Linked DNA regions of Homo sapiens: all the other regions are linked to region 3. The links come from fine-mapping of genetic effects on gene expression. A gene starts in region 3. Each other region holds a variant in brackets. All regions are shown on one strand. Distances are from middle to middle. Region 1 overlaps CEP164 (centrosomal protein 164). Region 2 has its middle 92 kb from the start of CEP164. Region 3 holds the start of CEP164 (centrosomal protein 164).

Region 1 (5,863 bases), 65 kb before region 3:
GTGCCCTGGACAGATCAGATGAACAAAATGTGGGGAACAGGGAGAAGAAAGACAGGAAATGGAGGAAGAACAGGAGGGAGGACAAAACAGGGAGACAAACCTCACTCTTCAGAGCAACCTGCCTCTGCACATCAAGCAGCTGCTGCTTCTCCCTCCGGGCGGTCTCCTCCTTGCAGGGAAGAGACAGGATTTTCTGGCTGACTGCAGACCCCAGGTCTGAGGGGCAGAGCCTGCCCTCTGCTAGAGAAGCTATGACTCTGAGGTCAAGGACTCCTGCAGATCCCTCACCTGGACCTCCAGCAGAGCCAATCTGGCCTTGACATCTTTAGCTCTGGTTTCAAGGTCCAACTCTAAATCCTGGAGCTTCCTTTCCTGCCCAGAAAGGGAAACACATAAGCATAGAAAGAGTGTAAGGCATTAGCTGAGGGGCAGGAGGGGGTTCCAGAACCCACCATGCCACACCACAACCTCCACTCTGGGCTCAGGCTTCCTCGCTGTGTGCCCCTGCAGCCTCCCAGGAAGGCTCCACACCTTGTTTACTTCCTGCTGGGGCAAGGAGACGCAAAGGTGCCAACCCCAATGCCTTACAGGGGCTGACCTCTAGTTCTAATCCTGAGTGTGTTCCCTGGCCCAGAAAACAAAGTAACAAGGATGCCCCAGCTTGGAGATGGCCAGTGAGAGACTCTCACTCCAGAAGCTGTCAGGCTGCATCCTGCTGGGGCCATGCGTCTGCTCCCAGCACCTTCCTACTGTGCATGGAGGGGTCACAGTGGGCTCACCCTGCCCCAGGCCCCTCACCTGCTCCCTGTGCCGGCGCCGCAAGTCCTCAAGACGCTTGTGTTGCTCCTGCCTCACAGTCTCCAGTTCTCGTTCATGGGCCCTCTGCAGGCGCTCCAGCTCTCCGGTCAGGTGCCCCAGAAGCTCAGCCCGCTGCTTCCTCTCCTGCAAGGAGGGTGGGCCCACCGGTGGGAAGCTGCGGCAGCCCCTTCTACCACAAAAATCACAGCTCCCCTAGCCCTGCAGCCTTGCATCAGTAAGATCAGGGACACCATCGGCTCCCTAAAGCCAGCTCTTGGAGAAGAGGAGGGTTACAAGCACAGCACCGGCCCTGGCCCCAGCAAGCCTGCAGCCCTCTAGAGCTGAAGCAGAGGCTGGTCAGACACCACGACAGATTCCCTTTCTGGCTCTCCCTATGGCTCCACCATATACAACTTTTCCTCTGTAAGGAATGAGAGGTCACTGATAAATTATCACTATTCTTCAGCAAGGTCATAATTGGTTGGGGGAAGGGATATGGCAAATTTCATCATGGGACTGCTATTTCTGCCCTGGGAAAGATCCTAGAAAGAGTCTGGGATACTGGTTCCAGTTACTGGAGCAGTAGTCTTAACACCCTGCAGGGTCCCAGCTGTGGGCTATAGTCAGCCACCCTCTACCCACCCATTGTTCACCCTCAATGTGAGCAAGGCAGGCCAGCTTGGGTAAACTCAAGTCGCTGAACTTTCCTACCTTAAGACCAAAGGCTTAAAATGGGGAGAATATCAGTATTACTTGGCTCTTGCCAGTCTATTTCTTGGTGTCCCAAGATGTTGAGGAACCCTGGTGACACAGCATTGCAGTGAGGAAACTGAAGGCTTTGGAGTCAGATGGCCTGGGCTTGAATCCTAGCTCTTCTACTTATTGGCTGGGTGTGATCTTGGGAAGCTACTTAAACTCTCCAAGTCTCAGTGCCCTCATCTTTAAAATGGAGACAATGATAGTAGATCCTTCCTAAGGCTGGTGTGAGGACTAAATGAGTTAAAATAGATAAAGAGCTCAGAACAGTTCTTGGCACACAGTACAAGCTCAATGTATGGGGGTTCTTTTTACTATCAGAAGAAAGTACAGCCTGCCTGATAAAAGAGGAATTGCCCCCCATTAGGTGGAGGTTTTTCTCATGTTTTAATAAAAAAGGCAAAAAACATCATCGTGGCAGGGTACCAGGAAGGAAAACCTCCCACAATCCCTGACCACAGTTTATCCCCTTCCTCTGCCCCACAGCCAGGTGGGAAGGACCCCGGGGTGTGTGTGCATGTGCGTGCATGTGTGTGTGCATGTGTGTGTGCATGTGCGTGCATGTGTGTGTGCATGTGTGTGCATGCGCGCAGGGGATGTGGCTGAGCTACCTCAGCTTCATACTGCTCTCTGGCCTTAGCCATCACTTGCTGGTGCTCCTCCTTCATCTTGTCCAACCTCCTCTCATGCTCCCCTTCCACTTCCTGGCGCTTCTCTCGCAGGAGACTGCTGAGCTGCAGGGGAGATGGCAGGGATGTGGCATGAAGAACCGAGGCGGACCAGCACTCAGGGCCTGCTGCACCTGAAGGTCTTACACACATTTCCCCAATCTCCCCC[A/C]ACACACACAACACATGCACATCACACAGCCATGACACCATGGTCAGCACACAGCCATACCCCAACACCCCCTCCCCACATGCATACAGGGGCATCAGATTGGAGGAGTACCTGGCTTCAAGGGAACTAAGGCATAAAAAGGGAACTAGAAATGCTAACCCCAGCTGAGCCATCCAAAGCAAACTGGAGGCCGCTGAGGCTAGGCCGGCTCAGCTGACTGTAAGAGAGTCCACAACAGGCGCACACGACTGTGGAAGACAGAGCAGCACTCACCTCGTGCTCATACCCAGCCACGTGATAAGACTTCTGGTGAACTCTGTGCTCCACTTGCCCAAGGCACTTCTGCAGCTGGGCCTCCTCTTTCTGTTGAGCTTCCTGTATCTTCTTCTGGAGGCTGGAGACCACCTGAGGAGGCCCCCGCACACACAGGGGAGTGTGACCCTCAGACAGACTGTACAGCTGCTGTGTGGGGATGTGTTCTGAGGACCTGGCATCCATCCCCCAGGGCTGGAGAGAGAGGCTCGCTGCCTAGTAGCCAGGGATGGGGCTGAATTCTGCTAATCAGCCATGAAGGGGGCCCAGGATGCTGCATCTTACCTCCCGGTGCTTGGCCTCCAATGAGGAGCAGAGCCGCTCCAGCTCAGCACTGTGCTCCTTCTCCAGCGTTGCCACAGCCTGGGGAGGAGCAAAGGGACTGTGAGTGAAGCTGGCCAGGTACTGATCATGGTGGGAGGCGGAGCCAGGAAGACTACCGACCCCCAAGCCCTCGAGATCAGGGTCAAGGGAAGCATGGGGAAGCACAGCACATCTTTGTTCCTCTGAAATAACTCAGCCCCTGAAGTCTACAACTGGCAAATGAACAGGAACATGAAGGTCAGAGGAGAGGGGCATTTCAGTAAGTTTCGGCTCTCTGCTCCCACCCCCTGCCTTTAGACTAGGCCACAGATCCACAGATGGTGCTCATGCTGGTAAATAAGATCCAAGCCAGGGGGGCCAGGTTGGATGCTGTCATTAAGTCGGGCCATGTAGAATTTTCTTTTTATTTTGGTGAGGTGCAAAGCTGCAGCTATTAGACAAGGAAAACACTACAGCAGGAGTAGGGAAGTGCACTGTACTACAAGTGCTCAGAGAGACTGTGCTAAAACCTTCAGAAGCCCACCATCTGACTGGAGTAGAAGAGGGAGTATGGACAAAGAGAAAATCCTTGCTATATTGCTAGCCTCTCATCCTAAGAAAGGAGAGAAAAGTGGGGAGTGAGGCCCTTGCAGCTGTCCCTCAGAGACAGTGAGGGACAGAGCGCCTTTGTCTCAAAACCTCTGGTCTGGCTAAATCTCTTTCAGTCACGAACTTTCTCAAATCCACAGGACGCTCTCCCTCAAGCCTCTGAGGGTTCTCTGCTTGACAACCTCCAGCCGCCACTGCCATCCAGCCTGACCCTGGAGGAGCCTTGTGATGCCTGCTGCATCCTCTGCCCTGTCATGAGCCGATTCGGTCCATATGGAGTAATGGGCCCAGGTGGTCATCTCGCTGTCTCCCATGCCTGTGTGTGTGAGACCTACTCTCCACCTGGCTCCCCAGCCTGCACGCCCACCCGAGACTTGCCCTTCTTCTCCTTGTGCACTCAGTCCCTCCCCAGGCAGCCCAGACACAGGTCAGAGGGTGAGGTCCCCACTTGACTAGCTCACTTCTTTCCTCTCCCCTTCCAGCTGCTCCCTCAGCTGCTGCAGAGCCTTCTCCTTTGCAGCATTCAGGGCAGCCTGCTCGCTCTTCTCCGAAGCCTCTATCTCTTCCTTGAGCTGCTCCAGCATTTGCCTATTTTTCTGTTCCAAGCTGGCCCTCTCAGCCTTCTGTTGAGACTCCAACTCTTCTCTCAGTTTCTGCAGGGAAGCCTCTTGCTCAGCCCTGGGTGGACACAGTGGAATGGTAACGGGCCTGTGCACCCTGGGGTCGCCTCCGCAGGGCTGGGCAGCTCACAGGTAAGCACACACTTACCTGATTTGGTCCTCATCTGCTTGTGTGCTGGACTGGACCTGAGCTCGGAGCCAGGATAGCCTCTGGCTTTCCTCCTCTCTCATCCGGGCCTCCTCCTCCTCAATGGCTTTCTGCAGCCGCTCCCTCAAGGAACTGAGATGGAAAGGAAAGGCTAGGTTGTCAGAGAAACCACAAAGGTCTTTCTTCTATTCATAAGCTATGGCTCTCAGCCTCCAATAGCCCTGTTGCCTGCCTAAGAAACTTCCTAAATCTTTTTTTTTTTTTTTCTTTTTGGAGACAGGTTCTTGCTCTGTTGTCCAGGCTGGAATGCAGTGGTGTGATCATGGCTTACTGCAGCCTTAAACTCCTGGGCTTAAGCAATCCTCTCGCCTCAGCATCCCATGTAGTTGGGACCACAGGCATGCACCATCAAACCCAGCTAATTGTTGAGATGGAGTCTCGCTATGTTGCCCAGGCTGGTCTTGAACTCCTAGGCTCAAGTGATCCTTCAGCCTCAGCCTCCCAAAGCACTGAGATTACAGGTGTGAGCCACTGCGCCCAGTCAAAGCTTCCTAAATCTTAAAGATGAGTCTAACCTTAGCCTCTAGGTCCACTGCTGCCTCCCTAATACCTCCCAGGATTACGAAGGGACCATGAACTCCCCTTTGCTTCAAGAAGCAAACTAATGGCCGGGCGTGGTGGCTCACACCCGTAATCCCAGCACTTTGGGAGGCCGAGGTAGGTGGATCACTTGAGGTCAGGAGTTCGAGACCAGCCTGGCCATAATGGCGAAACCCCGTCTCTACTAAAAATACAAAAATTAGCCGGGCATGGTGGCGCACACCTGTAATCCCAGCTACTTGGGAGGCTGAGACAGGAGAATTGCTGGAACCTGGGAGGCAGAGGTTGCAGTGAGCTGAGATCACACCACAGCACTCCAACCTGGGCAACAGAGCAAGACTCTATCTCCAAAAAAAAAAAAAAAAAAAAAGCAAACTACTGGCTTCTGGGTTTTGGTAGTACAGCACTTCTTCCAAAGGCTCCCCTCTGTCAACAGCTTCACCTCAGCATGGCACTCACTCAAGGATAGCTATAGCCACCCAACCAGATTCCACATTCTTTCACTCCGACAGACTCTGTTCTAGCCACATCAGCTGAGTCACCATCCCTCCATTCTACCACACTCTTCCTTCCTAGGTTCTCTGCCAAGAATTCCCTTTTCTATCTGGCAAACCCATATTCATTCCTCAACACTCAGCTCCCTCTCTGGGAAGTCTTTCCAACTCCCTACAAGCTCATCAATTCATCTTTCTGTTCCCATCACTTTACATGTGGACCTTTCTTATCCCATGCTACTCTGCACCATGCGTCACATGGCATCATAATTCATCTTCTGTATCTCTGTTTTCCTTGCAAGTCTGGGAGCTTCTCAAGAGAAAGAATCTTGTCTTAAAATCTGTTATATCCCAGGTACCACACATAGTAGCTGACATAAAGTAGG
Region 2 (8,513 bases), 92 kb before region 3:
ATGTCTTACTTTTTGAGGAACGAACAAACTGTTTTCCCCCAGGCATCTGTATTTTTTGTTTGTTTGTTTGTTTGTTTTTGAGACGGAGTCTCAATCTGTAGCCCAGGCTGGAGTGCAGTGGCACCATCTCGGCTCACTGCAACCTCCACCTCCCGGGTTCAAGCAATTATCCTGCCTCAGCCTCCTGAGTAGCTGGGATTACAGGCATGCGCCACCACACCCAGCTAATTTTTGTATCTTTGGTAGAGACAGGGTTTCACCATGTTGGCCAGGCTGATCTTGAACTCCTGACCTTGTGGCATCTGTATTTTTAACAAGCGAAATGATACCCAAGTATTTGTTCATTCACCAAATACCCAGAAGCACTTCCAATGATCTGGCACTGAGCTGGGCACTGGAGATGCAAAGGCCCTGTGGGTCTCTTCCTGCGCTCAAAGGCTCACTCCCCGGAGTGTGCGCAAACTGGCGGAGGCGGAAGGAGGGAAGCCTGGGTCAGGGAACAGCAGGGAGGGTTTGCTGTCTGCCAAAGCCTCATGATCCTCCACAGTGCACAGTTGTTGCGGGGAAGTCGCTACGCATCCCGTGACTACAGTTCCAGGCCCCCGATTCTCAGAGAAGGCGATGAGACTGAGCTTTGACCAGCGGAATGTGGCATAAGTGATACACGCTACTTTCAGGTCCAGCTCATAAAAACTTCCCTGGCCACCCTCTGCTCTCTCCAACTGTAAGTCAATGCCCAAGGTGAACTTGGAAGCCACTTATTGAAGATGGCAGATCCTCTATCACCCTGGCTTATACATCGATGTAGCGCAGAGGCCCCTCTATCCCCTTCAATGCCAGCTGGACTTTATGTGAGCAAGAAATAAACTTGCAGTAAGCACCGATACTTTGGAGTTTATTTTACAACAATTAGCATCATCTTAATTTATGCAGGAGATGAAGGGGAACTTGGCTCCCCATAGAAATTCTCCCTTGATAGATCAGGCCCAGGGCATCCTCCCCCGCACCGCCTGCCATACCATGTCACCCACCATACCATGTCACCTCCTCTTACCCTACATATTGGATTCCTATACAGGTAAAGGGTGGGAAAGGCAAAGGGAGACGCTGGTGAGCTTAGAGAGGAGGAGGGCATCTGTGTGTCTGTAGGAGAAGGGTGGGAGAACCAGGCTGAGCATGAACCCTGAGTCAGGGCTCTGTCCTTCCTCCCAGAATCCATGTCCTCTTCTGGGCAATGACAACAATACTCTAGGCCGAAGGAGGAATAGATGCCAGCTGGATTACCCTGGAGGTGATCCATACTTGGTTTTAGTGTCTCTAAGAATCGCACAATCTCAGGACTCAAAGAGACCTTCAACGCCACCTGGTCCACGCTTCCACCCAAATTGGGAATTCCATCTGCAATCAGCAAGAGTGGTCTGGCCTTCCCGTGCACACCTCCTGATGGAGAACTCATCACTTCCCCAGCCAGCACATCTCACCTGTGACAGCTCTAACAGCAAAACCTCCCTCACACTAAGCTTGGGTGGCCCCTCCAACTTCTACTCACAAGGCTCGGTACTGCCACTCCTGGGGGGCACCACAAAACAAGTCTCATCCCTTCCCAACTCAGAAGCCCTCCACAGATGGTATTTGAACATCGTCCTCAGCAGACAGGCTCCCCAAGGGCAGAGAAGGGTTCCACTGTCTCTTCCAGAGAAGGGACAGTGCCTGACTTAATAGGAGCACAACATATGTTAGACATAGATGAACAAAGGGTAAACAGTGGGAGAAACGGGCAAGGAGTAGACCAGTGAAGGCCGAGATCTCCTGAAACATTGGTTCTCTCCGCATAGTGTCCCCAAGTTACAAGAAAACAACACAACAGAATACCATCATGCCTGCTGCCGTTTGCTGAGAGTCTACTTGAGTCAAGCACCCTGATAACCACTTAGCACGGATACTCTCCTAGTTTTACCACTACCCTGTAAAAAAGAGTAACTCCTATAAGCACAAAACCCAAGTGGTGGTGTCTCAGGGCCGTAGTGCCAGTCAAAGAACCTCAATCCACTCAGCCACCAAAACGAAAGTTTTAAATAACTCAAGTTATCTGCTTTTGTTTTTGTGATCCTGAAGGGGTCCGAAGAGCAGATGTAAGTGACACCCGCTGACACCCTACGGAGCCTGTGCCTCCCACATCCCCCCACACACTGCCTGCTCTTCTCCAGCCCTGCTCAGCTCCGCCCTCCTCTCCTCTGGGGAATGTTCTCTCACATTCATTTCCCCCCATTTTCCATTAGGAAACAGCAACAGTTGGGCATAGGGGAGGCAGAGGAGGTGGGAGAAACCGCAGGCAAGGCAGGCCTCCTCTTTGGTGATTCGTGGGAAGGATCTATGGATGGGAAATTAATGTGTTTGTAATTTCTGCCCTGAAGATGTGTGATCTCCATTTTATTGGCTAAGAAAGAAGTCAAAGAGGTCAGGTGACTTGTACAAGGCCACTCAGCCGGCAAGAGGCATCAGCCAGGGTTTGAATTCCAAAGCCGGTGCTCACCAAACCACTTCGGATCCTTTCCAGAAAGCCAGGCGGCCCCCAGAAGGCGCCATGTGTAGAGTTCCTACTATGTGGCGGGCACTGCGATGGAAACGCAGGGGCTGCGGAGTCAATCCTGCTGCTCCCTTGCCAGCTCTGTGACCTCGGGAAAGCACCTTCGCCCTCATGGGCCTCAATTTCCGCTTCTATGAAATGCGAGAATAACTCCCATGCTGCCAGGTTGATAAGACTGAAAGGAAATAATGAGGTTAAAAAGCTTTTAACTATGAAATGGGGATTAGACAAGATACAAACCAGCAGACCAGAGGGTCAGATTCCAGAGAAGCCAGGATTTGCCTCATCTGCCCAGGTTTTGTTGTTGCTGTTGTTGTTTCTTCTTTTCTTTCTTTCTTTTTTTTTTTTTTTTTGGTCAGGGTTTTGCTGTTGCCCAGGCTGGAGTACAGTGGCGCAATCATGGTGCGCTCAACCTGGAATTCCCGGCCTCAAGCGATCCTCCCACCTCAGCCTCCCGAGTTGCTGGGACTACAGGCGAGGAACACCATGCCCAGCTTTTGTTTGTTTGTTTGTTTTCCTGCCCAGATTTGTGTCCAGGGAAGCAGGTGGGATATGAAGGTCCCTTGCTGCCCTAGAGAACCTACTGAAGCTCACCAAGAGGATTCACAGCCTGTGCAGAAAGGGAAGCTCTGAAGGCCTCTGATGTCCTCAAATTCACTGTCATCAGTCCCAACCAGGAGCTAGCACTGGGCCCCCAACTCCTGGGAGTCACCAGAAAGGGTGGACGGCGCAGTAAAATGCCACCCCATCCATGCTGGGCCAATGCCTCACCTCCCCCAGGAGGCATCACCCAGATGGTGAGCTCTGCCCTAAGACGTCCTGCCTCTGTGGGTGCCATTCTTTCTCTCTTGAGCTCCACCCTTCCTGGGCCCAGTGGAGGTGGATGGCACCATTCCAGGCATGGCCCTGCGTGTCCCCAGCTGAGCCCCGCCAGGGCCTTTGTGACAAGTGGCATCTCCAGTACGCGCTGACTGGACACATCCGGGCTCAGCACCCGGGCAGCCACCACCAGCCACCACTGCGGCCAGCCGCCTCAGACCAATGCCCCGCACGAAAGCCAGGCCTCCAGCCACCATGGGGCTCTGTCGGCAACACCAAGGGAGAGGGGACTTGGCAGGTCCTGCAAGCTTAGACTACAAGTCTCCCATCCCCACCCTCCCCCAGGCATTTCTACAGTGTCTGACTCTGCCTGACACCCTGGGTCCTGCCCACCTCAGCCTCCTTCCCCAGGAGGCACAGGTCCCACGCCTGCCAGGCTCTGACACCCCTCCATGGGGATTCAGAGACTAGAGGAGTGCACGGTGGATTTTGGGGCACCAGGGGTGTCACCGCAGCCCAGCCCAGACTCCAAGGAACCGCCTGGGTCAGATCGCCCTTGAGCCAAGCAGGGATTCCTTTTAGGAGTTAGGGCCGTTGTAGGGCTTCAGGGTGTCCCTGGGCAGAGCTTAAGAAAAGGGTAGGGTCTGCAATGCCAGGGAGTGGGAGGGAATTCATCACGGGCCTTGGGTGCAGGAATACCTACTGCTTAGGGAGGTCTCCTGTGTGCTTGGCACTTCCCAGGCGCTGGGGGCATGGGGTGAGGAGAACAGGCAGCCCAGCAGATGTTCCAGGGTGCATGGAATGAGCTCATTCTCAGATGAAGACACCGACGCTGAGTCGCTGGACAGTCACTTGTCCAGAGCACAGAGGTGGTCAATGGCAGAGCCACAGATCTGTCTGACTGCTCCCAGGAGGAGGTTTCTGAGGAGGGGAGCACCCGGGCACTACCCTTACCATCTTCTCTTTGTAGCTACAACAGAGTGGATGCTGTTGTGGCCCCAGGGCCTGCCAACTTTCTCCAAGAGGAAATGGGGCTGAGGATGAGACAACAGCTATTTATTTGAAGGCACCACCGCTGTCTTGCCTTTAGTCAGACTCTGCCGGCCTCTGAAGCCGAAGAGAGCACGTAGGAGGAGGAGAAAGGGTAGGTAGAGCAGAAGGCCTTCCCTGGGGAGACCTTCCCTCTTCACAC[A/G]AAGAAAGAGGCTGCCCCGGACCTCCTTCTCAGCCCCCAACCTCGCCCTCCAATCCCTGTGCCGGGAGGGAGGGCGCATACTCATGAGGGTGTGCAGTGTCCACACAAGTGCCTACGTGAACAACTGCACTACAGGCCATTGGTTTGCACTCTCATTCTGCAACCTAATAGCTTAACCTTCCAAGGCTCTCTCGCTTTCTTTTTTCATCTTGTAAAATGGAGATCATTGTCTACCTCATAAGATTGCTATGAGGATCTTTGAGAGCTGTAGATAGGTAAAGGCCTTTGCACTGGCTGGTAGTAAGCAAACAGAGGCTACTTTATTAGTAAGAGGCCCTGTGAGAATCCAAATGTGCATGCACTACACTTTAACCCCTGCATGTGCATACACTCATGTATGTTCATAAGGGGGACAAGCAGCGGACGGGAGAGGGTTCTGTGACCCTATTTCATTCTATCATGTGGAAGAAGTAAAGGGACATTTTTTTCTGTGTGAGTCCACAGCAGAACTGTAAGAGAAGACTCCCCCTCAGCCAGTTCAGAACTGCTCAACAGCAGGACTGGCTACCTCAGGGGTGATGAGCACCTTGTCCTTGGAGGCATTCAAGCAGAGGTTCAACAAACACTTGCATTTCCACAACACTCTGTAGTTTACAAGGTGCTTCACCCAAAGTACTTGTCCTAGGTTATTTCATTCACCCTGTGTGTGTGTGGTATCTTCTGCTCCATTATACAAATAAGGAAACTGAGGCTTAGGCAGAGGATCATTTCCCAAAGATACTCCACTAGTGCCTGGGCGTCAGAATTTGAGCCCAGGTCTTTTGGAGGCATGAGATAGAGCCTTGAAGCCAGCCTAACATAATAGGTAATCCAAGAGAGTCCCAGCTCCATTCCCTACCTTTGCCCCTTTCCAGGCCTAGTGCCTAAGCTGCCCCAGCAGTGGCCCTACAGGGGGACGGGTCACTAGGAGAGCGGTGGAGCCTATTTTCTCAGTCTCCAAGGTCCATGCAGCGGGTAGGCGTCGGCTCCTCGTGGGGAACCCCAGGAGACCGTCCTGTACTCCAACCTAGGGCACCGTCTCAAGCCTGACAGGCTCTGTTCTGCCTCCTGCCTGCTGGCCCCAGGTCCTAAACTTTCCACTTCCCTCTCTCTCTCCCTCTCACATACAACTGGCCATGAAGAGGAACACAATCCCCCAGCAAGCGTTTTCTTTGCCACCTGTCTTGTCCTCTGTGTCCAAGACTTTTGCGGTTACTCATGGGAAGTCACACAGGTTGCAGTCTCCGTCATGGTTCCCGACTTCCCTGGCCAGGGCAACGGCAATACCAACAGCTCACATTTATTGAGGCCTTACTATGTGCCGAACACTGTTCTAAGGACTTCTTGCATCCTCACAACCTCTTTATAAAGGATAATGTGGAAATCCTTGTTCGATTCATAGCCTCCCTGCTTTTAACCCTGAGAGTGAGACTCACCCAACTGTCCCTCTGCTTCTTACCTCCCAAGAACGGGTATCCTTCTCTTCAGCAGGGGCAATCGGAAATGTCTCCAATGCCCTCTGCTCTACCCCACAGAGCAAAAGCCATGAGGCAGACTGACGTCTCCTATCCTAGAATTTTTAAAACTAGGAGAGCACTACCTGCACCCCATCCTGCCCGAGCCGGGAGAGGAACTGTGCTTCCTGGAGATGGAGGCAGCCCCTCCCAGGCGTGCTGCCCACCCACAAACCATTTCATCACAGACCAAAGGGCCCTCCCTGTAGAGTTAGAAGGCTGCTGGAGAGAGAGTAAGGTTTCCAGGGTGGGGGCTATGGCTGAGCTGACTTAATGAAACAGCAGCTGTCTCTCACCTCCAGATCAATCATCCCAATGATCCAGATCCAGTCCCCCTATCTGATCAGAGGTCAGGGCCAGGGGGAAACAACTGACATATGGATTTGGATGAAAGTGATATGGGTCTTTCAAGAAAAAACAAAAGGGAGAGGACATTAACCAGCTGATTTGACCCAACCAAGGAAGATGGGAGGCAATCCTTCCTTCAGGGCCATCTTGTCCTAACCCTCGCCTCCAAACTGGGGTCATGGGTCCATCCCAAAGGTTATGTGCAGGAGCCTGTTCTATTGTTATGCTCTCAGGCACCAGCACCTCCACAGACACTATGCAACCCATCACCTTTTGCTCTATTTCAAGGAGCGCTGGGATCCCAACCCAAGCCTGAGGGTCACAGAGAGCATGGCTGGGAGCCTCTCAACAGTCACACTAGCCTCAGAGACCCTGGAAAGGGAGAGAAGAAACTATTGAACTCTCCAGGGAGTGTGCCTTCATAGGGCCCCATAGGGAAGGGGGATCAGGACTTTGAGGGCTGCTGGGCAAGGAGACTCCTACACCCTCTCTAGAAGAAATGCTACTACATCTTCTAAAAGCACTGACAACAATCAGGGTGATAAGTTTGATGGGGACAGTGTAATATGACCCCAAAACCAAGAGCTGGGGTTCTACTCAATGTAAGACATGGACTTTCTAACCCACAATGGAGCTAAGCGTGCTATGGGGTGTGTGCGTGTGTGTTCGCCTGTGGCCATTTCCTCTCCTCCCACCTGATAAAAAATGTTGGCAGATTCTAAATTACAAAGACTCATATTTACAAACGTCTGCCGTCTCCTCAACCCTACTGTGATGTGAGGAGTGCTTATCACTGCAGGGCACCAGCACCTCTCTCCTTCTTTCAGGGTAGCTGTGATATGTCTCAAATAAATTAAGCCTCCCATTTCATTTATTTTCTTTCTTTTCTTTTCTTTTTTGGAGAGACAGTCTCACTCTGTCGCCCAGGCTGGAGTGCAGTGGCGCAATCTCGGCTCACTGTTACCTCCGCCTCCCAGGTTCAAGCGATTCTCCTGCCTCAGCCTCCTGAGTAGCTGGGACTACAGGTGTGTGTCACCACGCCCAGCTAATTTTTGTATTTTTAGTAGAGACAGGGTTTCACCATGTTGACCAGGATGGTCTCGATCTCAATCCACCCATCTCGGCCTCCCAAAGTGCTGGGATTACAGGTGTGAGCCACCTTGCCCGGCCAAGGCTCCCACTTCAATGGACTCATTTACTAGAAACAAACTAGGTCTTTGATAATGTGTGTGCTGGCCCGTGTGAACCACCAGCTTCTTGGAAGGGGAAAATAAGAGTGCCTTGTTTTCAAACCAAAAAGAACTAGAAAAGAAGGGAAGGCCTGTCTTCCTCTGGCTGTGGTAGTCCATCATGGAAAAGAGCGTTACACTGCCCTTCCCTTGGGGTGCTGTGTGACATACCTGCTGGAGAGGGCACATGTCACAGGAGGGCAGGCAGGGGAAGCAGGCAGGAGATGCAAGAGGAAAGGAGAAAGAAGGGGACTTTCCAATTCATCAGGACATGGCTGATAGCAGGAACTCCATTTTTTAACCATCACTTCCCCACCTCCCCCAGAAAAGCTGGTGGTGGGATAAGCAATCCCCTCTCAGCACACCTCCCCACCAGAGCCTTGTCTTGGCCCTCCAGCAGCCCTCTGGATGAGGCCAACTCCCCACCCAAGGTAGACCCCTCAGAGTTGCTGAAGCAGAGGCCGCTACCCTGCTTCATTCCCAGAGTGTGGGTTCAGGCTTAGAGCTTGTGACCAGGGAAGACACAGGAACGGAAAGGACTTGTTCAGGTGACAGCTTGTAGGTGGCAGAGTCAAAAGTAAACCCAGGACGGAGGCCAAGATTATTTCCCTACACCTCATACTGCTATTTTGTGTGGGAGTTTACTGGAGGGGCAGGGAGGCGGGAGGGGTCAGTGGCGGGCGCCTATCATCTTTCCCAGCATTGTTCCCTTAAGAAAACCGTCAATCAACCACTCACGACAGAGCTTGGGGCAATCGTCCCATCCTACATTAGGAGTGACCCAT
Region 3 (8,513 bases):
ATGTGATCAGATGGAAAGGAAGACAGAGTTACATAAAGAGTGTAAAGTGGGGAGGCAGAGGTGGGAGGATCACTTGAGACCAGGAGTTCGAGGCTGCAGTGAGCTATGATTGTACCACCATACTCCAGCCTGGGCAACAGAGTGAGACCCTATCTGAAAAAAAAAAAAAATACACCAGCAATCTCAGAAGCTAGGAAGACCCGCAGTAGTTTTGGTCCACCTTCCTTCCCATGCCAAAATTTTCCTCTCTGTGCTTCCAGTGACAGGCGGCATAGTGGTCAAAGTACCAGCTTTGGAGACAGAAGACCTGGATTCAAATCCCAGCTCTCTCACTTAGCAGCTGTATGACCTTAGGCAAGGTGCTTCACCTCTCTCAGCCTCAATAACTGCATGTGTATAATTAAAACAATCTTAACAAAAATCAAAAAGCCTGAAAGTAAAATGAAACAACACTTATAAAGTGCCTAGCACAGTCCCTGTATACAGAAAAGTTACACAAATTTAGCTAGTATTACAGATTCTATTTTCAATTCCATAGTTAGATAATTCTTAACTATTAGAAGGTCTAATAGTAAGCCAATAATCAGGTTCTAAAAAAATGTTCCCTGGTATCTCAAGTCTGCCTTCTGCTCATCTGGGGACACCCTAGGATTCTCTAGCTAAGGTAGGCTAAGTATTCCCAGTTCTCTTCCATTCAGTACATATCGTTTCCCAGTCCTTCAATATTGTGGCTACCTTGCCCTGTACTTTGTCAGCATAGCTAGAGTTTTGCACATCTGCACACTAACAGAGAATATACACTCACAGACATAATGAGGGTTCTCTGTATATTTATTTCTTCCACCCTGCTCCAACAATTACAAAGAAGGTTGACCACAGAAAAGATTGACTGGAGAAGGTAAAGGGGAGAAGGTGGAAGATGTCAGAGTTGATTACGCAGTGGTAATGAGCAAAAGCTTTGGAACATTCTTGGCTTTCAATCCCAGCTCTGCCTCTTACTAGCTGGACAGCCTCAGTTTTCTCATCTATAAAATGAGAGTACTAACAATATCCATCACAATGTGTTGTGAGGCTTATATGATTCAATACATGTAAAGTGCTTAAAATATACTAAGGTCTCAATAAATGTTAGACATTACATTATTATGACTGCTATTCACCTATTTAAAAGGGTTTATTCTACCTTGCTCCAAAGGACATATCCAGCACCAGGCAATATAAGTTAAGGCCATTCAGACATTAAGTAATCACTTTTTCTTTGCTTTTTTTTTGAGACAGAGTATCATTCTTGTCACCCAGGCTGGGGTGCAATGGCACGATCTCTGCTCACTGCAGCCTCTGCCTCCCAGGTTCAAATGATGCTCCTGCCTCAGCCTCACGAGTAGCTAGGATTACAGGCGCCTGCCACCACGCCCGGCTAATTTTTGTATTTTTAGTAGAGATGGGGTTTCACCATGTTGGCCAAGTCTCGAACTCCTGACCTCAGGTGATCCGCCCGCCTTGGCCTCCCAAAGTGCTGAGATTACAGGCGTGAGTCACCGCGCCAAGTAATCACTTACTGAACACCCACCATGGGCCAGACATTGTGCGACGTGTTAGGGCTACAAACCTGATTACACATGGCCCTGAACTTGAGCTCAGCCTACCTGGAAAGCCAAACACGTAAACACATGACTACAAAATGTGTTACATGAATTAAAGGAAGTAACATAATATATAACAGAACACAAAGGTAAGGGCAAATAATCTTAGGAAGATCAGGGAAAGCCTCACAGAGGACAATTGAGATAGTTCTTGAAGGATAAGCAGGTGATCCCCAGGATAAGCGGAGTAAGGGAATTCACGGCAGAGGAACAACATGCACAAAGGCAAAAAAGAAGAAAATCATAAGGTGGGTGCAAAGAATTAATTATGACAACAAAAGCTTATAGCCACTGAACACTTCCTATGTTACAGGAACTGTACTGAGTGCTCTATATACATCATCTCACTTCATCCACTCAGCAAAATAGAATTATCTTCACTTTTCAAATAAGGAAACTGAGGCTTAGCAAAGTTAAAAAAAAAAAAAAAAAAAAAAAGGCCAGGCGCAGTGGCTCACGCCTGTAATCCCAGCACTTTGGGAGGCGGAGGTGGGCGGATAATGAGGTCAGGAGATCCTGACCAGCCTGGCCAACATGGTGAAACCCCGTCTCTACCAAAATACAAAAAATTAGCCAGGAGTTGTGGTGCCCACCTGTAGTCCCAGCTACTCGGGAAGCTGAGGCAGGAGAATCGCTTGAACCCAGGAGACTGAGACTGCAGTGAGCCAAGATCGCACCACTGCACTCCAGCCTGGGCGACAGAGCAAGACTCTATTTCAAAACAAACAAACAAACAAACAAACTTGCCCAAGGTGTCACAGCTAATAAACGGTAGAGCAGAATATGTAAGTATCCATGTCTGACTCCAAAGCCCAAACTCTTAACCATTCTGACATGACCAGAGTGCAAGGGACAGTGGGAGGAGTGGCAAGACAGAGCTCTAGAATGAAAGGCAAGAGCATATTATAAAGGGCCTGGAAGAACAGAGGCTCTATCCTGTAAATGATGAGGGGCCATCACAGGATTTCACAAAGGAGACTGGCATGACCAGATCTGTAGGTCAGATAGACGATTCTAGCCAAGAATAGTGGTGCATGCCTGTAGTCCCGTCTACTAAGGAGACTGAGGTGGGAGGATGGCTTGAGGGCAAGAGTTCGAGGCTGCAGTGTACTAGGGTCACACCGGTGAATACCAACTGCACTCCAGCCTGGGCAACATACCAAGACCCTGTCTCTAAAATAAATAAATGATTCTGACAGCTGCATAAGAACTAATTACAGGAGGACAAGAACTGAGGCAGAGAGACCACTTAGGAAGTTATCCTGAAAGCACAAGCAAGAAATTATGAACTAAGTCAGTGTCTGTGAGGATGGAAAGGAAGCGCCAGATTCTAGGGGAATTAAGAGGCAGAATACAGGACTTGAACTTCGGGAGAGAGGAGGGAAATCAGAGCACTAAAGCCAGAACACTGTGACTATCATTTCTAGATGTGTTCATTTCTATGCCTCGTCCAATAGGCAGCCCCACCTACTACACTGCCTAGAAGACAGGGCATGTCCGACAAATGTTTGCTGTATTTATTAGATGAATAAATTAAAGGGACAGACTTGGCTGAGTGAATGGTGAAGCCCTTCATTGAGATAAAAAAATACAAGAGGAGAAACAGATCGGAGGGACCGGGGAAGGCTGACGATGACAGTAAGCAGGTCTGAGCTCAGGAAAGAGGTCTGGCTGGAGTAGTTTGGCGAGTCAACGCTGAAAAGCTGATAACGCAAGAGATGGAGTGCGCCGAGTAGAAGGGAGCTTTCTACTGCCAAGGACTGAGTTAGGAGAACGGACAGGGAGTCGCTGAAGCCAAGTGAGGAGAGCGGTGCCAGAGGTAGAGGGACATTTTTAAATCCAATGCAAGAAAAGGAAAAAACAAAAAAGCTTTCCAACTTTCCCAGCTGGCCAAAGATGGCATAAGATTGGGCTAGCCCCGGATTTGGACCCGGGGGGAAGCCTGCCACAGAAGTATCCCAGCAAGCTTCGGAAGGCCTGGCCTCACTCGCCAACGATGAACAGAGCAAGCAAACCAGGGCCCCGTGCCCAGTGCCCCTCTCCCGCGTCCCGACCCGCTGCTCACTCACCCGCCAGACCCCCAGCCCGGGCCCGGTGGCCCGCTCAGGAGCCGGCGAGATTTCAAACGGAGGAACTGTCGCCTGGCAGTCCGATTTTCACTTCTTCCCTCAGTCCCCGCCCACACTCGAGCGCATCACGCTCGTTGGCTCGAGAGCGTGCCTCGGGTCCCCCGCCACGCTCGCTCCCTTCCCCGCCGCCCAACCCCTCCCTCGATGAGGTCCTCAACTATCCCCCACCCCGGAAGGCTCCGGGCGAGGCTCCGGGCGAGGCTCTGGGCGAGGCGCAGCTCCCCCAACGCCACCCAACACCCACCCGCTCCCCCAGCTTCCAGGGACGCCGGGGTGTTGCCCTGCAGCGCGCAACAAACACTTCCGGAAAAGGTACCGCCTAGCAACCGGGAGTCCCGCCTCCAGCAGGAGCCAATAGGTCGCCGGCTGAGAGCTGTGACAATGGATTGGCTCGAAGTCCCTTCGGTGCACGCAGGAGCTCTGTCCGTTTTCCGTTGCACGATGGGAGTGTAGTTTAAGATAGATAATGGGAATCCGCAAGAGGTTGAAAGAGTGTAGTTTAAGATAGATAATGGGAATCCGCAAGAGGTTGAAAGAGAACCTCATCGGCTGGGCGCGGTGGCTCACGCCTGTAATTCCAGCAATTTGGGAGGCCGAGGCGGGTGGGTCACCTGAGGTCAGGAGTTCGAGACCAGCCTGACCAACATGGTGAAACCCCTTCTCTACTAAAAAAAAAAAAAAAAAAAAAAGAGGACCCCGAGTTTAGACGTGAGGATTTCTGCCAGGACAGAGAAGGACTATTTAGAGTATTTATACTAATGTGAATTATCTAATTATCTAATTGATCATTTGTTAGGAGTATGATTAACATCAGGTGAATAATACAGTGGTCATCAATAATCAACCCATTGTTACTTTAATCAACAAAACAAATGTGAATGTAAGGTAATGGAGACGCGTCCACTCCCCATCTCTCCCCGCAAAAAAACTGGCTCTCCTGTGCTCCTATTAAACCAGTGAGCACCTGACCAGGAGTTAAACCTATTTTCTACTATCCATCTTTTCACCAAAGCCCAGGGTTCAGTTTGTATGTCTGCAAGATGGGGATAGTAATGTCTGTCATAACTATTTCAAAGAGTCTATTGAAGAAGAAAAAAAGTGACACAATGTGTAGCTCCTCCACACACCCTGTCGGGCAGAAAGGTTGCTACTAATATAATTCCGAAGAGTTTTAGTTTTGCTTGCACGGAGGGCAAATCTTCCTTTCTCTCATATGTCTCCAACCTCCTAGAGAAGTTAAGAGGGGCAAAGAAAGTTCTGGCCATTACATCAATAGGAAAACTGAGAAACAGACAAATACAGATGCTGCTAGTTGAGGAGGAAAATGATGAGGCCAAGCTCATAGAGCCGCTCCTGATAGGTTCTAGAGATGTAGCTGACTCAGGATAGTCCCAGTGCCACTCAGAGGCTGATTCCAGGATGAGAAACTCAGATTGTTGGAATATACAGAGCATATTCCTTGTGAAAATTATCAAAATCAAAATAGAGTCATTTGTTTTAAAACCCTGACAAATGGAGCCAGGGAAGACCATGAAGAGAGGGTTCTCACGCATGAATACCTGATAACAAAAACTATCGACCGGGCCTGGTGGCTCATATCTGTAATCCTAGCACTTTGCCAGGCACAGTGGCTCACACCTGTAATCCCAGCACTTTGGGAGGCCAAGGCGGGTGGATCACCTAAGGTCAGGAGTTCGAGACCAGCCTGGCCAATATGATGAAACCCCGTCTCTACTAAAAATACAAAAATTAGCTGGGCATGGTGGCACACGCCTGTAGTCCCAGCTGCTCAGGAGGCTGAGGCAGGAGGCTGAGGCACTTAAACCCGGGAGGTGGAGGTTGCAATGAGCCCAGATCAAGCCACTGCACTCCAGTCCAGCCTGGGTGACAGAGCAAGACTCCGTCTAAAAAAATAAATAAAATAAAAATTCCTACTTGAGCCAGGCACAGTGGCTCATGCCTGGAATCCCAGAACTTTGGGAGGCCAAGGCAGGTGGATCACCTGAGGTCAGGAGTTAAAGACCAACCTGATCAACATGGAGAAACCCCATCTCTACTAAAAAATACAAAATTAGCCAGGCATGGTGGTGCATGCCTGTAATCCCAGCTACTCGGGAGGCTGAGAGAGGAGAATCGCTTGAACCCAGGAGGCGGAGTCTGTGGTAAGCCAAGGTCTCGACATTGCACTCCAGCCTGGGCAACAAGAGCGACACTCCGTCTCAAAAAAAAAAAAAAAAAAAAAAGGTCCTACTTGCCCAGCCTCTATGGCATGTGTATACCTATTGCAATGCTACTTCTAAATAAATATCATTTTCTTTTGGAGTTTCCCTCTCTGTTATTTAGATTGACGTCATCATGTTTAAATTTAAATCCTTCTGCAGCAGTTATGCCTATACTTCCTTTATTCTTACTGTAAATGACAAATCATCGTCCCCTTTCCTCTCCATCTTCTTTAAAAGTCTTGGCCGGTCACAGTGGCTCACACCTGTAATCCCAGCATTTTGGGAGGCCGAGGCAGGCAGATCGCCTGAGGTCAGGAGTTTGAGACCAGCCTGGCTAACATGGTGAAACCCCATCTCCACTAAAAATACAAAAGTTAGCTGGTTGTGGTGGCAGGCACCTGTAATCCCAGCTACTCGGGAGGCCGAGGCAGGAGAATCGCTTGAACCCAGGAGGTGGAGGTTGCAGTGAGCCGAGATCTCGCCATTGCACTCCACCCTGTTTGACAAGAGCGAAGCTCTGTCTCAAAAAAAGAAAAAAGTAGGCCAGGCTGTGGTGGCTCACACCTGTAATCCCAGCACTTCGGGAGGGTGAGGCAGGTGGATCACCTGAGATGAGGAGCTCAAGACCAGCCTGGCCAACATGGCAAAACCCTGTCTCTACTACAAACACAAAAATTCACTGGGCGTGGTGGCACACACCTGTAGTCCCAGCTACTTGGGAGGCTGAGGCAGGAGAATCGCTTGAACCCGAGAGGCAGGGGTTGCAGTGAGCCAAGATCACGCCACCGCACTCCAGCCTGGGTGACAAAGTGAGACTCTGTCTCAAAAATAAATAAATAAATAAATAAATAAAGGTCTCACTGAGGGGCCAAAGGGACCAGACTGGGAAGGAATTCTGGGCTCACCAGCTCATCTACCACAAACCTGCACAAAACAGGGATTCAAAAAACCATTTGTAGACTTGGTCCCTATATCTAAGAATTTGCAATCTTTGCAATCAATCTGGTTTTTTGTTTGTTTGTTTGTTTGCTTTTTGAGATACAGTCTTACTCTGTCACCACCATGCCAGGCTAATTTTTGTATTTTTAGTAGAGACAGGGTTTCACCATGTTGGCCAGGCTGGTCTTGAAATCCTGACCTCAGGTGATCCACCCACCTCGGCCTTCCAAAGTGCTGGGATTACAGGCATGAGCCACCACGCCCAGCCCTGTTGATTTTAATTGCCATCCAAATGCTTAACTCTTGTGCCTTAGCATGGGTTCCTTGCTCTCTCATGGGAAGAGCTAATAAAATAAGAGATACTGTGGGATTAACAGGATTACCTTCACACAAATCAACAATTTGCATTTTATCAGGTTTCCCCATAGGTTTGTACTCAGAAATGCAAGCCAATTTATAAAATGCCCCCAAGGCAAACATAATTTAAAAAGTAAGACTTTGGGGGGAAAATAACAAAAATGACACACAAATTTTTTTTTTTTTTTTTGAGAGGGAGTTTGTTGCCCAGGCTGGAGTGCAGTGGTGCAATCTCAGCTCACTGCAATCTCTGCCTCCTGGGTTCAAGCGATTCTCCTGCCCCAGCCTCCCAAGTAGCTGGGACTACAAGCATGTGCCACCACACCGGGCTATGTTTTGTAGTTTTAGTAGAAATGGGCTTTCATCATGTTGGCCAGGCTGGTCTTGAACTCCTGACCTCAGGTGATCTGCCTGCCTTGGCCTCCCAAAATGCTGGGATTACAAGCATGAGCCACTGTGCCCATCCTGACACACTAAATGATATACCAGTAATATACCCAATGAGTGAAGAAGAGAGAGAGGACTTCACTCATAGGTTGTCTTCTACAGTAAGGATGAACATTTAGGGGTCATATTTCAAAGATGGGAAAGAATTGATGACAAATTTTTTCCCTACTCCTAGGTCAGAAACCACTATTAGAACTTTTTCTTACAACTCAACAGCCAAAACAAGAGAAAAAAAACCAAATAACCGGATTTTTAAAATGGGCAAACTGCCTTAAAAGACATTTCTCAAAAGAAGATATACAAATGGCCAACAGGTACGTGAAAAAATGTTCAACGTTACTAACCATGAGGGAAATGCAAACCAAAACCACAATGAGATACCACCTTATTCCAGTTAAAATGGCTACAATAAAACAGACAAAGGAAAACAAAAGCTGGTGAGGATATGGAGAAGAGGGAATACTTAAAATGTTGGTGGGACTGTAAATTAGTACAATCACCATGGAAACTGTATGGTGGTTCCTCAAAAAATTAAAAATAGAACTACCACACAATCCAGCAATCCCACTACTCAGTATATATCCAAAGGAAATGAAATTAGTATGTTAAAAAGATTTCAGCACCCCCATGTTAACTGCAGCATTATTTACATTACCCAAGATATGCAATGAACCCAGCTGTCCAACAACAGATGAATGGAAAAAGAAAATGTGGTATATATACACAATGATATAACATTCAGCCATAAAAAAAAATGGAATCCTACCATTTGCAAC

Evidence for each region. PIP is the estimated chance that this variant, and not a neighbour inherited with it, causes the effect. A credible set is the group of variants that fine-mapping cannot tell apart.
Region 1: its variant is the best candidate, but not a certain one, in a credible set for the expression of CEP164 in whole blood (TOPMed, PIP 0.52).
Region 2: its variant is the best candidate, but not a certain one, in a credible set for the expression of CEP164 in whole blood (TOPMed, PIP 0.57).

Annotation. Positions count from the first base shown.
Region 1 is chr11:117,389,429-117,395,291 of GRCh38, reverse strand. It overlaps CEP164 (centrosomal protein 164), which reads right to left. Exons shown (of 33, transcript NM_014956.5): 16 at 4,384-4,515; 17 at 4,077-4,293; 18 at 2,989-3,066; 19 at 2,665-2,796; 20 at 2,166-2,288; 21 at 799-942; 22 at 289-372; 23 at 101-169. Among named protein-coding and RNA genes, the nearest start is that of CEP164, 65 kb to the right of the region's middle. The variant A/C (reference allele first, on the strand shown) is at 2,392.
Region 2 is chr11:117,415,321-117,423,833 of GRCh38, reverse strand. No RefSeq gene overlaps it. Among named protein-coding and RNA genes, the nearest start is that of CEP164, 92 kb to the right of the region's middle. RefSeq lists an enhancer at 3,073-3,573. The variant A/G (reference allele first, on the strand shown) is at 4,599.
Region 3 is chr11:117,323,408-117,331,920 of GRCh38, reverse strand. CEP164 (centrosomal protein 164) reads right to left here and starts at 4,067. Exons shown (of 33, transcript NM_014956.5): 1 at 4,017-4,067. RefSeq lists a silencer at 3,750-3,999.